Linked DNA regions of Homo sapiens. The protein of the gene in region 1 purifies or fractionates together with the protein of each later gene. This does not show direct contact. Each region holds a gene or a part of one and is shown on either strand. Other genes may lie near its edges.

Region 1 (3,722 bases):
AATGGATAAAAAAGTGTGGCATATCCATACAATGGAATATTATTTGGTAATAAAAAAAGAATTATTAAATTGTGCTACAATATAAATGAACCTTTAAAACTTCCTAAATGAAAGAAACCAGTCACAAGAGACCACATATTGTGTGGTTCCATTTATATGGAATGTCCAGAATAGGCAAATATATGGACAAGAAAGTAGATTAGTAGCTGCCAAGGGTTAGGAGTAAATGGGCAGTGACTGCTAATGGGTATGTGATTTTTTTGGGGGGTGATGAAGATGCTTTAAAATTTATTGTAGTCTTGGTTGCACGACTCTGAATATACTAAAAACCACTGAATTGTACGCTCTAAGTAAGTGGATTGTGTGATACATGAGATACAGATCAGTAACTCCATTTTCTCTCTCTCTTTTTTTTCTAAGAGACAAAGTCTCCCAGACTGGAGTTGCAGTAGCAGCATCATAGCTCACTGTAACCTCAAACTCCTAGGCTCAAGCGGTCCTTCTGCCTCATCCTCCCAGATAGCTAGGGCTGCAGATGAACACCACCATGCCTGGCTAATTCTTTTTTTTTTTACATTCTTTGTAGAGATGTGATCTGACTTGGTTGCCCAGGCTGGTCTCTTAACTCCTGGCCTCAAGTGGTCCTTCTGCCTTGGCCTCCCAAAGTGCTGGAATTACAGGCATGAGCCACCATGCCTGGCCTTTTTTTTTTTTTTTTTTTTTTTTTTTAAGCATTATGGTTGGAACCTTTTATTTCACAGTTGAATCACTAACGGCATCTGACAGCTGCTGCATTTCTTGTTTGCGTTAAGTGTTCAAATTGAAGCAAGTTGATGGTTCGGACCTTGCCAATTTAAAGCTTCATTATTTTTGAAATGTTTTTCAAATGTTATATTTTAACATTGGGTGTTCATTGATTTTTTTACTTTAAAAGTACTCCTTTGTCAGTTTACTCAAAATTTCAAAACTAGCTGCATGTATTTTGCTTTAATGTTGAATCTACACTTAGAGGTTGTACTCTAGATCTAGTTAAAATTCAATATCATTGTGGCCCTGCATTGCTAGGTGGGGCTTATTAAGGTTAGACATAAAATATTTCATATCCCCCCAAAAACTTGTGAATTCATTCTTCATCATGAACATTTAATCTTCCATTGGAATTCTAGAGGGACTTCAGACTTTAAAAAGTGTTTTATAAACCTCATCTGTTATTGGAAATAATTCTGGAGACCTTAAATTTAAAGATAATAGAAATTACATTTTGTAAAACTTTTATTTATACTTTTGAAGGTTAGAGACATCTTAAAGAAAATAGTACCTGTCAACTCACCATGTCGTGACTTTGGCAACAACTTTTTTTTTTTCTTGTTTAATAGTAGACACAGGGTCTCACTGTGTTGTCCAGGCTGGTCTGGAACTCCTGGGTTCAAGCAGTCCTCCCACCTTGGCCTCCCAAAGTGCTGGGATTACAAGCGTGAGCTACTGTGCCTAGCCAACTTTTATCTGATACAGTATTGTAGTTTCTCTTACTAATGCTTTTGTATTGTCACTACTCTTGTATCCTTATTGATTTTTTTTTTTAAATTGTGTCAAGTAATAAATTTTTTTGTTAGCCCAGGTGAACATCTGGTACAAAAATAAGGAAAATTTAAATATTTTTAACATCCATAGTGTTAAACACGCAAAATTATAAATTAAAAAAGTTTTTTCTTTTCCCCCAGCAAGTACATTGATACCCATTCTTGGATTTATCTTCCATGTCAGCAAGCTCTGGTACTTGGGATTTTAGTAATACTAGTGTCCTGGAGTGTCAGCAGAACAGGTTTAACAAGAGGTTTTTAGTAAATCTTCTATACATTCAATATATTAACATACTTTGATAACAACCTTGTTTGTGTGTGAATTGATGGACGTTTGCTTGCAACCCTTGTTATATTTTTCAGTTGATACTAGCAGGAGAATGAGTTGGTGCTAACGTGCACTTTTGCTTGCTTGATAATGTTCATCACAGCCTTTTTTTTTTTTTTAAGTTTTCTTTTCTTTTTTTTTTTTGGAGATGGAGTCTCGCTCTGTCACCCAGGCTGGAGTGCAGTGGCGTGATCTCAGCTCACTGCAACCTCCACCCCCGGGTTCAAGCAATTCTCCTGCCTCAGCCTCCCAAGTAGCTGGGACTACAGGCGCACACTGCCACGCCCAGCTAATTTTTTGTATTTTAGTAGAGACGGGGTTTCACCATGTTGCCCAGGGTGGCCTCGAACTCCTGAGCTCTGGCAGTCCACCCGACTCGGCTTCCCAAAGCGCTGAGATTACAGGCGGGAGGCACCGTGCCTGGCCAAGTTTTCTATTCTTAATTAGTAATCTGTTTCTGTATTGAAGGATAATTTTTTTTTTCTTCTCAGCAACCATGGCCTGAGACTGAAGAATAATTATTTACCTTACCACATTGAATCTAGCATTTCTAAAAACTCAAACAAAAAGCAGTTTAATACTAAGTCATTATTTAAAAGTTGAAGTACCCAAAATTTATAAAACTCTATACAATTATATTATGACATGGGATCTATTCAGATTTTATTATTGCCCAACAGACCATTCTTATGTGATGAGAGTGGATGTGTTTGTTTACTTTTGCAATTTTTGGTGAGGATGTGTGCACATGCCAGAAAGAAAAAACCAAGGCAGAACCACAGTTTTCTGATTAGGAATACAATTTTCTGAATCAACGTTCAGTATTTGCCACAAGGATGTAGGAGAATGTTAATTGTCAGTGGTCTTTACTATGTTAAATGTAACACACTATGTGTCTTTTTGCCAAGGGTGTGACCTAGCCATTAGAGGCTTATTTTAACCATCTTTGGTTGGAAAGCTTGCCAAAAATGAGTGTGATTTTATTTTTTTAATCCAACATGGTGATAAAATTTTGTTTGTTTTTTTGAGTGTGTTTTTCATAAAGGTGCATTGACTCTTCAAAATTGGTAACCATATTTTGCTCTTAAGAGTGTCATTTCTCAGTCTTAGTATTTTGGATGACCTTCCAGGGGTTCATGCCACATTTTGTGTATGCAATTACTAGAAATAGGGTCTATAGCTTTCTGAGAGTATCAAAGGAATATATACTCCTTAAACAGATAAGAATTATTAAAGGGGGTCATTTGCCCTTGCATAATTGATCCAAACTGTTGTACTTTATTAGTTTTTGCTCATGTTTGTGAACATTTGGCTTTATACATAGAAAAATGCACAATAAATAGCTGCTACAGAATGAAAGTTATTTGTTTCTTCCAGACTGATTGTCTGTTCTGTTCTTCTCATAGCTTTCAGTGTTCCTTTCTCTAGAGCTGTCCTTTCTAAACACTTTTGCACAAATCTATCAGATTTACGTTTTGAAGGAAACAAAGTCTTTAATGAGACTCCCTTCTAAGAACTATGTTTCGTATTTCATTTCACTTTGATTTAGGTGTTACTGCTGCAGAAAGTTTTATTTTTGTTTAAGTATAGGTTTGAGTTAATTTAAGGTTTATTTTCTGTGAAAAACTACTTTGAAATGTTAAAAAGGCAACTTTACAAGATTTGTGTCTTGAGGGACACTCAGCTTGGTTTTCATTATTATCCTTTTAGGATACAGATGAGTTTATTTTACCTACCGGAGCTAATAAAACCCGGGGCAGATTTGAGCTGGCCTTCTTTACGATTGGAGGATGTTGCATGACAGGTGAGTGTTA
Region 2 (3,722 bases), on another chromosome or scaffold:
CCGACACCCCTGAGAAGACAGCACCCTGATGTCTGCAGGGATCTGGTCTCCTCCTTTGACCTCCACAATGTCCCCCACCACCAGCTGCTCTGAAGGGATGGTCTTCTTCTCGGAATCTCGGATGACGAGAGCTTGCTGCAGAAAAAAACCATGACAGATGCCTCAGACCCTGGAAGGACACCGGCCCTCCCCCAAGTCTGTGCCGCACCGAACCCCAGGACAGAGGCCTTGGAACTTCCTGATCACTCTCACTGTTGAGTCCATGCTGTTATGCAGCCTGCACCTGGCCCTGTGGACACAGCATTGCTGCTGGAGCATGAGGCTGTCAGAACAGCAAGAATGAAACAGAAGACTGCTTCACCCGAGGCCTGAAGACTCTAAGAACTACTTTTTCTTGAGCTTATGGAGAGTTCTTGGAACAGAAGAGTCGCTGTTGGCCAGATCTGGCCAAGCCAGAGCCCTGGGCCTCCTAGAAAAGGAGACCACTAAGGGTGAGCAATCCTGGCTGGGCGTCTGGGCAGAACACTGAAGGTGGGGCTGGGGAGGCTGATAATCTTGCGAGTGTCAGGGAAATTTTAACGAGGTGATCTCCTGCTTCAAGCTTGGCAGGAGGCGTCTTTTCCACCCAGAATCTCTCCAGCCCACAGTTCTCTGGGCCAGAGACAGTGTGGACACCTGACAGGGGTTTTTGGGGAAGAAGGGAGCACTGGGCTTCCCCACCAAATGCATTCTGGGGCTCAGGAGCAAAAATGGTCACAGATAAACAATTGCAGGCTGGTCTCCTTGGCTGCCAGTGAAAGAACACTCCCTGACCTTCCACAGGTCCCTTCCAGAACCCAGAAGGACTATCCACAAACACTGAGGAGCAGGAACAGAAGATGCCTTGGGCTAACCAGCACTGCCCTGGGTGGTGCCTCATTTGACCATCAAAATCCTGTGAGGAACTGGGGTTCTGACAGATGGGTTAATTCGCCCACGATTGCTCCGACAGGGAAGGAAGTGGAAACCCGTAGCCCTCAGGGCCCTGTGCCCCTCCCAGCTGAGGCTTCCTCACCTGGGAGTCACCAGAGGCCAGAGGATAGGTGGCTGCCACTCACCTGAGGGATCATCTTATTGAAGCTGGACATGATGTTGGTGCTTTTTGCCTCTTGGTAATAAGCAAAGATCCCCGTTAAAATGACCACCAGACCAAGCACACAGCCCAAGTACACCTGGGTGAGAAGGAGGGCGTCAGTCAGAGAAACCAGCAGTGGGAAGCAGCCGGGCCCTGGGGCTAGAGCTCTCCACGGGAGGATGCAATGCTGGCAGTTACGCCCTGGTATAATTTACAGGCCATGGAATTCGCCCATGTTAAGTGCGCAACTTATTGATTTTTTTTTTTAAGTTTACAGAGCCATGACACCACCCTCCACCGCAGCCTCAGAGCATCTCCATCCTGCCTGGAGATCCCTCCGGCCCCTCTGCCGTCACTCCCTGCTCCTGTCCCATGCCCTGGCATCACCGATCTGGTTCCTGCTTCCAAGGATGTGCCTGTTCTGCACATTTCATGTCAATCCAATCCTATGACATGTAGCTTGTTGCCTCTGGCTTCTGTCTCTTGGCATCACGTTGGCCAATTCAGTTTTGTGGATTTGGTACTCATGTCTCGGCAGGCACAGCTGCTCTCCGTGTTAAAGGAAGAGGTTAGCTTGGGGGAGACAGAACCCCAAACTACTTCACATGGATGCAGATTTTCTCCCCCTTAAAAATTCAAGGTGTTTTGTGTATCCCTCTTCATGCCCACACTGCCTCTAGAAGATCAGAAAGCCAGATAGAATTTCTGTTTTACAGCTGGGAAAATGCCTGACTTTCCCACACCTAGGCAGTGGCATTCAGCCCCCAGCTGTGCCCCCAAGGCCTCACTGGATGGCTCTGCCAGCAAAACCAGGAGGGGACACCCCAGAGCCTTACGTTGTTCAGGGATGCAGACTTGTCGCTGGAGTACTGAATCCCATATGCAATCCAACAGAGAAAGGCGCCCACCCACAGGAGGATAGAGAACCCCCCCACCATCTGCTTGAGGAACTTGACGATCTCAGGCGTCTGCTTGGGAGGGGTGAGGGAGTTGGGCCCATCCCGGGCCAGGAGCTCGGCAGCTCTGGTGCTGGAGAGACCCTGGGAAAGCCAAACAAAGCACATGCACAACCAAAACAAATACGAATTAGACATTCCTCCTCCCTCAGGGGTTGGGCTGCATATTTTTGCAGCTTGGGGTGAGGCATTAACGTGGCCAAAGAAGGTCCCGAGAAAAGCAGACCGTGCCTCACTTCTCCAGCTGCCCAGCTTTTTTGAAAGACTATGTAATGCTTAATACCAGCCAGGCACTGTGCTCTGTATATTCACTCATTTAGTCTTTAAAATAACCCTTGAGGCAGGGGCCATTATTCCTCCCTCTCGTCATTCGCAGAGGTGGAATTTGAGGCACAGAGAAATTACGTAACCTGTCGAAGGGACCTGGCCTGTCAATGGTAGCGACCAGGTTCAACGTGGTGACTGGGTCCAGAGCCACTGCACTCTGCTCTGCTAAGGGGTTTTAGTTTCTTAGAGGTTTATCCGGTGAGAGGACTAATTTGATGAAGGAGGACTTGGAATGAAGAAGCTGCTCACCAGGGCTAAGGGCAATGCAGTAACTCCCCAGGAAATAGGGAAGCTTCTGGAATCCTGCACAGAGAGCATGTGGCTTTAGTTTCCATCCTTACGCCTGCTCCTTTTCCACCTTTCTACACATCCAGCCTAAGTTCTCATTCATCTTGACAGGCATAAATCCTACCCAAGCCCTGAGCCCATGTGAGCAGCCCCTGCCCTGGGGGGCCTGCCATCCGTGAGGCACCCTCACCTTTGAAACCCTACATGTTCACAGGAATTTCCCCCACAGACGATCTTTGGTGGACAAGTCTGTAGATACCTCTTCTCCCTAATTATGTTGTAAGCTACTTAAAGGGCAGGACTCTGTCTTGGTCTTTTTTTTTTGAGACAGAGTCTCGCTCTGTTGCCCAAGCTGGAGTGCACTGGTGCGATCTCGTCTCACTGCAACCTCCTCCTCCTGGGTTCAAGCGATTCTCCTGCCTCAGCCTCCCAAATAGCTGGGATTACAGGCAGCGGCCACCACACTTGGCTAATTTTTAAAATATTTTTAGTAGAGACAGGGTTTCACCACGTTGGCCAGGCTGGTTTCGAACTCCTGACCTCAAGTGATCTGCCCACCTTGGCCTCCCAAAGTGCTATGATTACAGACCTAAGCCACCATGACAGGCCAGTCTTGGTCATTTTTGTGTTCTCTCCCGGGTCTCATGCTTTTTCTGTGGTAGTGATTCAAATATCTGTTGAATGGCTAGATTCAGGCTCACCACCTCGATCCCATCTCCCTCCACTCCAATTCCTTTTCCAGAACCCCAGACTCATCTTTCTGAATAACTGTGGAACATTTCCTCAGGGGTGTTCCGGAGAGACTTCTCCTGGTATAACTCACAATAAGTTCATCATCGCCTCCACCCTCCTGCCTTCCCTGCTCTCACCTCCCTGCCCCCACCCCAGCCCATCACCCGACCGGCTCTCCTCCTCCTGCTGCTGTGACATGACTAGCGAGATGAGGGGCTCAATAAAAATCCCCGCAAGTCCTGCTGGTTGTGTCTCTCTGCAATTTCTTTCTTTCTTTCCTTCCTTCCTTCCTTCTTTCTTTCTTT
Region 3 (3,500 bases), on another chromosome or scaffold:
ACTGAAGATGCAGAAAGCGGAGGCAAGCCAGAAGGCTCCATAGGGCCTGAGGACCTCCTGCAGAGAGAGGAAAGGCCATGGGTGGACGCGGGGAGAGATCAGGAAGCCCCACGCGATCACTGAGACAGCTCTGCCACCAGGGGGTCCAGTCCCCTGACCCCAGCCTGCCCTGCCCAAGGCCACACCCATTTTATCTCCACCCAGCTCTGGGACATGGAGGATAGTCTGGCATCCAGTCTGGTGGCTTGGGCCGAGCACTGTCCAAGATACCGAGGTCGTATGGCTGGGGAAACTGAGGCTCACAGCAATGAAGTGACTGCCTCAAGGCCAGAGACCCGCTATCCAGTGACAGCTGGGCTCCTGTTCCAGGTCTGACTCCAGGGCCCACAGACCAACCCTCCACCCTCAGCTTTGGCCCCACCCTGAGGCCCCCGGTGGGTTCTTTCATAGTGTGGTGGAAATGGGTGAGACAGGGCAAAGCGAGCATGGCCCCAGGAGCACATGGGGCCTTCAGTCAGAACCTGTCCCTGCCATCCACCACCACTGTGACCTCCCACGTGCCAGAACTAAAAAGGTGCTTCTCAGCTCCTGGTCCTCTGGGACCTGGCGATCTCTCCCTCCTCGAAGGCCTTCTCTTGGCCTCTTGGACATTTTCTCTCCTAAAAAAGGACTGTTAGGTCCTTTGTCACCTCCTTCTTGGCTTCTTTTCCTCCTTCCTTTGCTGCGCATCCCCTCCCAGCTGCAGCAAGTAATCTCCACCCCCAGGCATCGGCCTGGCCCCCTCGATGTGCTCCCCGGGCAGTCCTGCCTAAGCGGGTCCCAAGCTCTGCACAGACTCCAGGCTGGCCCCTCATGACCCGCCCCACCACATCCTAACCCAGCCCCACTGGGGTTCATTCTCCCACCACTGCCATGGCCTTTCCCGTCCTTGTCATAAAGGGGACCCTGTCCATCTTGTTCATTGCTCTCCCTGGCGCCTTGAATGGGCCTGGACATGGCACATGCCAGGAGACCTGGAGGGCACAAATGACTGAACAAACAACCAGATCATCTACCCCAGAACTGTCTCTCTGTTGGCTGGGAAGCCCCGGGACAGGGGCCACACCTGTGCCAGTCCATCCGTGAGAAGGCAGCAACAGGATGAACTGAATTAATGCTCCCATCCGTCTTAAGAGCAAGCTGCTGTTACTCTCCTCCAGTTTCAGCCAAAGAAGCGGGCTCAGAGAAGGTAAGCATCATACCCAAGGTCACACAGCAAGGAAGTAGCCAGGGTGGGGCTGCAGCCCAGCCCTGTCAACTCTTCCCATGTAAGACCTTAGGCTCAAGGCCCGCTTTCCTGACGTTCACTAAGGGGAGAGGCCAGCTGTGCTGTCTGACTGCCAAGACAGGCAGAGGACTCCCAAGGGGTCACAGCCTGGGTTCCCCATCTGGCCTAGCCCATCTGCCTCCACGTCGCCTTGCCCAAGATGGCCAGTGGCCCAGGCATGGTGGGGCTCAGGCTGCATGTAAGGCCACGACCCTGGGTCTTCTGCAATACAAGTGGTTTTAGAAAGTGCTTCTCGGCTGACTGCACGAACGCGGTGCTGGTGGAGCCTGCCCTCACCATGAGGCTGCTGAACTCCTTGGTCACGAGAAAGGCCATGAGCCAGTTGGTGAGGACGCAGATGCCTGTCGCCACGCCCTTGACATGCAGAGGGAAGATCTCTGACATGAGGAGCCAGGGGATGGGCCCCCAGCCCACCGCAAAGCCTGTGGGAGCGAGACAGGCAAGACAGGCATCAGGGTCCGCAGGGCTGGGCTCCTCAGCTTGCTGCAGAGCCAAGAGACCCAGCTTCCCAGCCTGTGGGGCTGTGGGGTCCCGGATCCCAGTGTGGTCCCACCAGCTCCATGCTTTCCTGCCAAGGCCTCGGCCAGCCTCTTCCCTCCTCAGGCACAGGCTCTGTCTCTGAGATGGGGTCACAACGGGGCCTGCTCGAGGGCTGCTCAGGGGATTAAGTGAAAGGAACGCAGAGGGGCCTAGTTCCACAGCTGCATGTGGTCAGAGCTAGAAATGCAGAGCTTGGAACTTACGAGAGGAGAGGTGAGGCTGGGGAAGACCCCACCTGCCGGGAGCCGCCACAGCAGGGCCGGGGGGATCACCTCCCACTCCTCGCCCAGCCTCCCACAGGCCCCCTTACCGGCGATGAAGAGGCACATGCTGCCCACGGCCAGCCAGGCCAGCCCCACGCTGGCATCAACAGGCTGTGCAGAGACAGGCGCCGAGATGGCCACGTGCGAGGAGTTGCCAGGGCCACCCTGGGTCAGCTTGAAGTAGGCGCCGAAGGCACTCGTGCTGAACACCATGACCACACCTGCAGGCGGGAGGGCGGCAGTGGGCGGGGCACCCGGGGAACGGCCCAGGGCGCAGCAGCATGGCCTGGATGCCTCTGAGAGGGGCAGGCCCGGCTCCCAGAGAACGGCCAGCTTGGTGTTCTGGCACCTTGGCCGCAGAAGCCCTGACTGGGTGGCAGCCACCCCGCCTTGGACCTCAGCGAACTGCAAAAAGTTCCCGGAGCAGACCCTCTGGGCCGAGGAAATGGGAGGTACCGGCACAGAAGCAGCAGCGAGTAACCCTCAGCCCCGACGGTCGTCTTCGCAGCAGCTGCTGGGTACCAAATGTCCGTGGGCCGCAGCTCTTGCTGAAGGCCTCACGTGGATCACCTCCCACTCCTCAAAATGGTGCTGAGGGAGGCACTGCCATTACCCCCACTTCCCAGAGGGGGAGACTGAGGCTCAGAGAGGTAAAGTCACTTGTCCAAAAGGACCCACAAACTCTTGAGTCACTTCACCTTCCTGGCCCTCAGTTTTCCCGTCATAAGCTGGGGCTGTGAGAGTGCCTTCTGGTGGGTTCACCACAGAGGTTAAAGGCGTGGTGTGGGAGTGCCACTGGCATGGACAGGCCTGCAGTGAGTGCTTGGTGACAAGCTGCTGTCAAATCATGGCCGCATTAGTCCATGATGTTTGTCATCACAAATGCTCCCTGTCCTCCTCCTGCAGTGTGGTGGCCTTGGCGAAGGCCCTCCCCCGCATGGCGGGGAGGCTGCACAGGGGTGAACCCTCACCTGACAAGACCAGGAGCAGCCTCCGCCCTGCTCTGTCCATGATGAGAGCCGCCACAGCTGTGAACAGCACCTGGATGACACCCACGACGACCGAGGCCAGGCTGCTGTCCTGGGGGAGACAGAGCCCAGGCAGGTCAGGTGGGCCAGCTGAGAGCTGGGTCCCTCCCTCTCCAGGCCTGTGCTGGATGGCTGGGCCCTGGGCTTGGGGAGGAAGCTCCATCTATGTGGGGGCTGGACGAGGCAGGCCAGGCAGGGCCCTTTTACCTTGAACTTGGCCTCTTCAAAGATGGTCTCTGCATAGAACATGACGGCGTTGACCCCCGACAGCTGCTGGAAGGCCATCAGGGAGACGCCGATGATGAAGGGCTTGTAGATGCCGGGCTGCCGCAGCAGGGCCAG

What was found.
Region 2: the proteins of TIMM23 (region 1) and ATP12A purify together in Homo sapiens (affinity purification with mass spectrometry; one large-scale study listed by BioGRID and IntAct). This does not show direct contact.
Region 3: the proteins of TIMM23 (region 1) and SLC2A8 purify together in Homo sapiens (affinity purification with mass spectrometry; one large-scale study listed by BioGRID and IntAct). This does not show direct contact.

What each region holds. Positions count from the first base shown.
Region 1 is NC_000010.11:45,978,905-45,982,626, forward strand, and holds part of TIMM23 (mitochondrial import inner membrane translocase subunit Tim23), read left to right. Parts: intron 1-3,618; coding exon 3,619-3,712; intron 3,713-3,722. UniProt on the Homo sapiens protein: Essential component of the TIM23 complex, a complex that mediates the translocation of transit peptide-containing proteins across the mitochondrial inner membrane.
Region 2 is NC_000013.11:24,686,751-24,690,472, reverse strand, and holds part of ATP12A (potassium-transporting ATPase alpha chain 2), read right to left. Parts: intron 2,155-3,722; coding exon 1,951-2,154; intron 1,212-1,950; coding exon 1,098-1,211; intron 136-1,097; coding exon 1-135. UniProt on the Homo sapiens protein: The catalytic subunit of a H(+)/K(+) ATPase and/or Na(+)/K(+) ATPase pump which transports K(+) ions in exchange for Na(+) and/or H(+) ions across the apical membrane of epithelial cells.
Region 3 is NC_000009.12:127,403,669-127,407,168, reverse strand, and holds part of SLC2A8 (solute carrier family 2, facilitated glucose transporter member 8), read right to left. Parts: coding exon 3,366-3,500; intron 3,211-3,365; coding exon 3,102-3,210; intron 2,352-3,101; coding exon 2,178-2,351; intron 1,750-2,177; coding exon 1,604-1,749; intron 58-1,603; coding exon 1-57.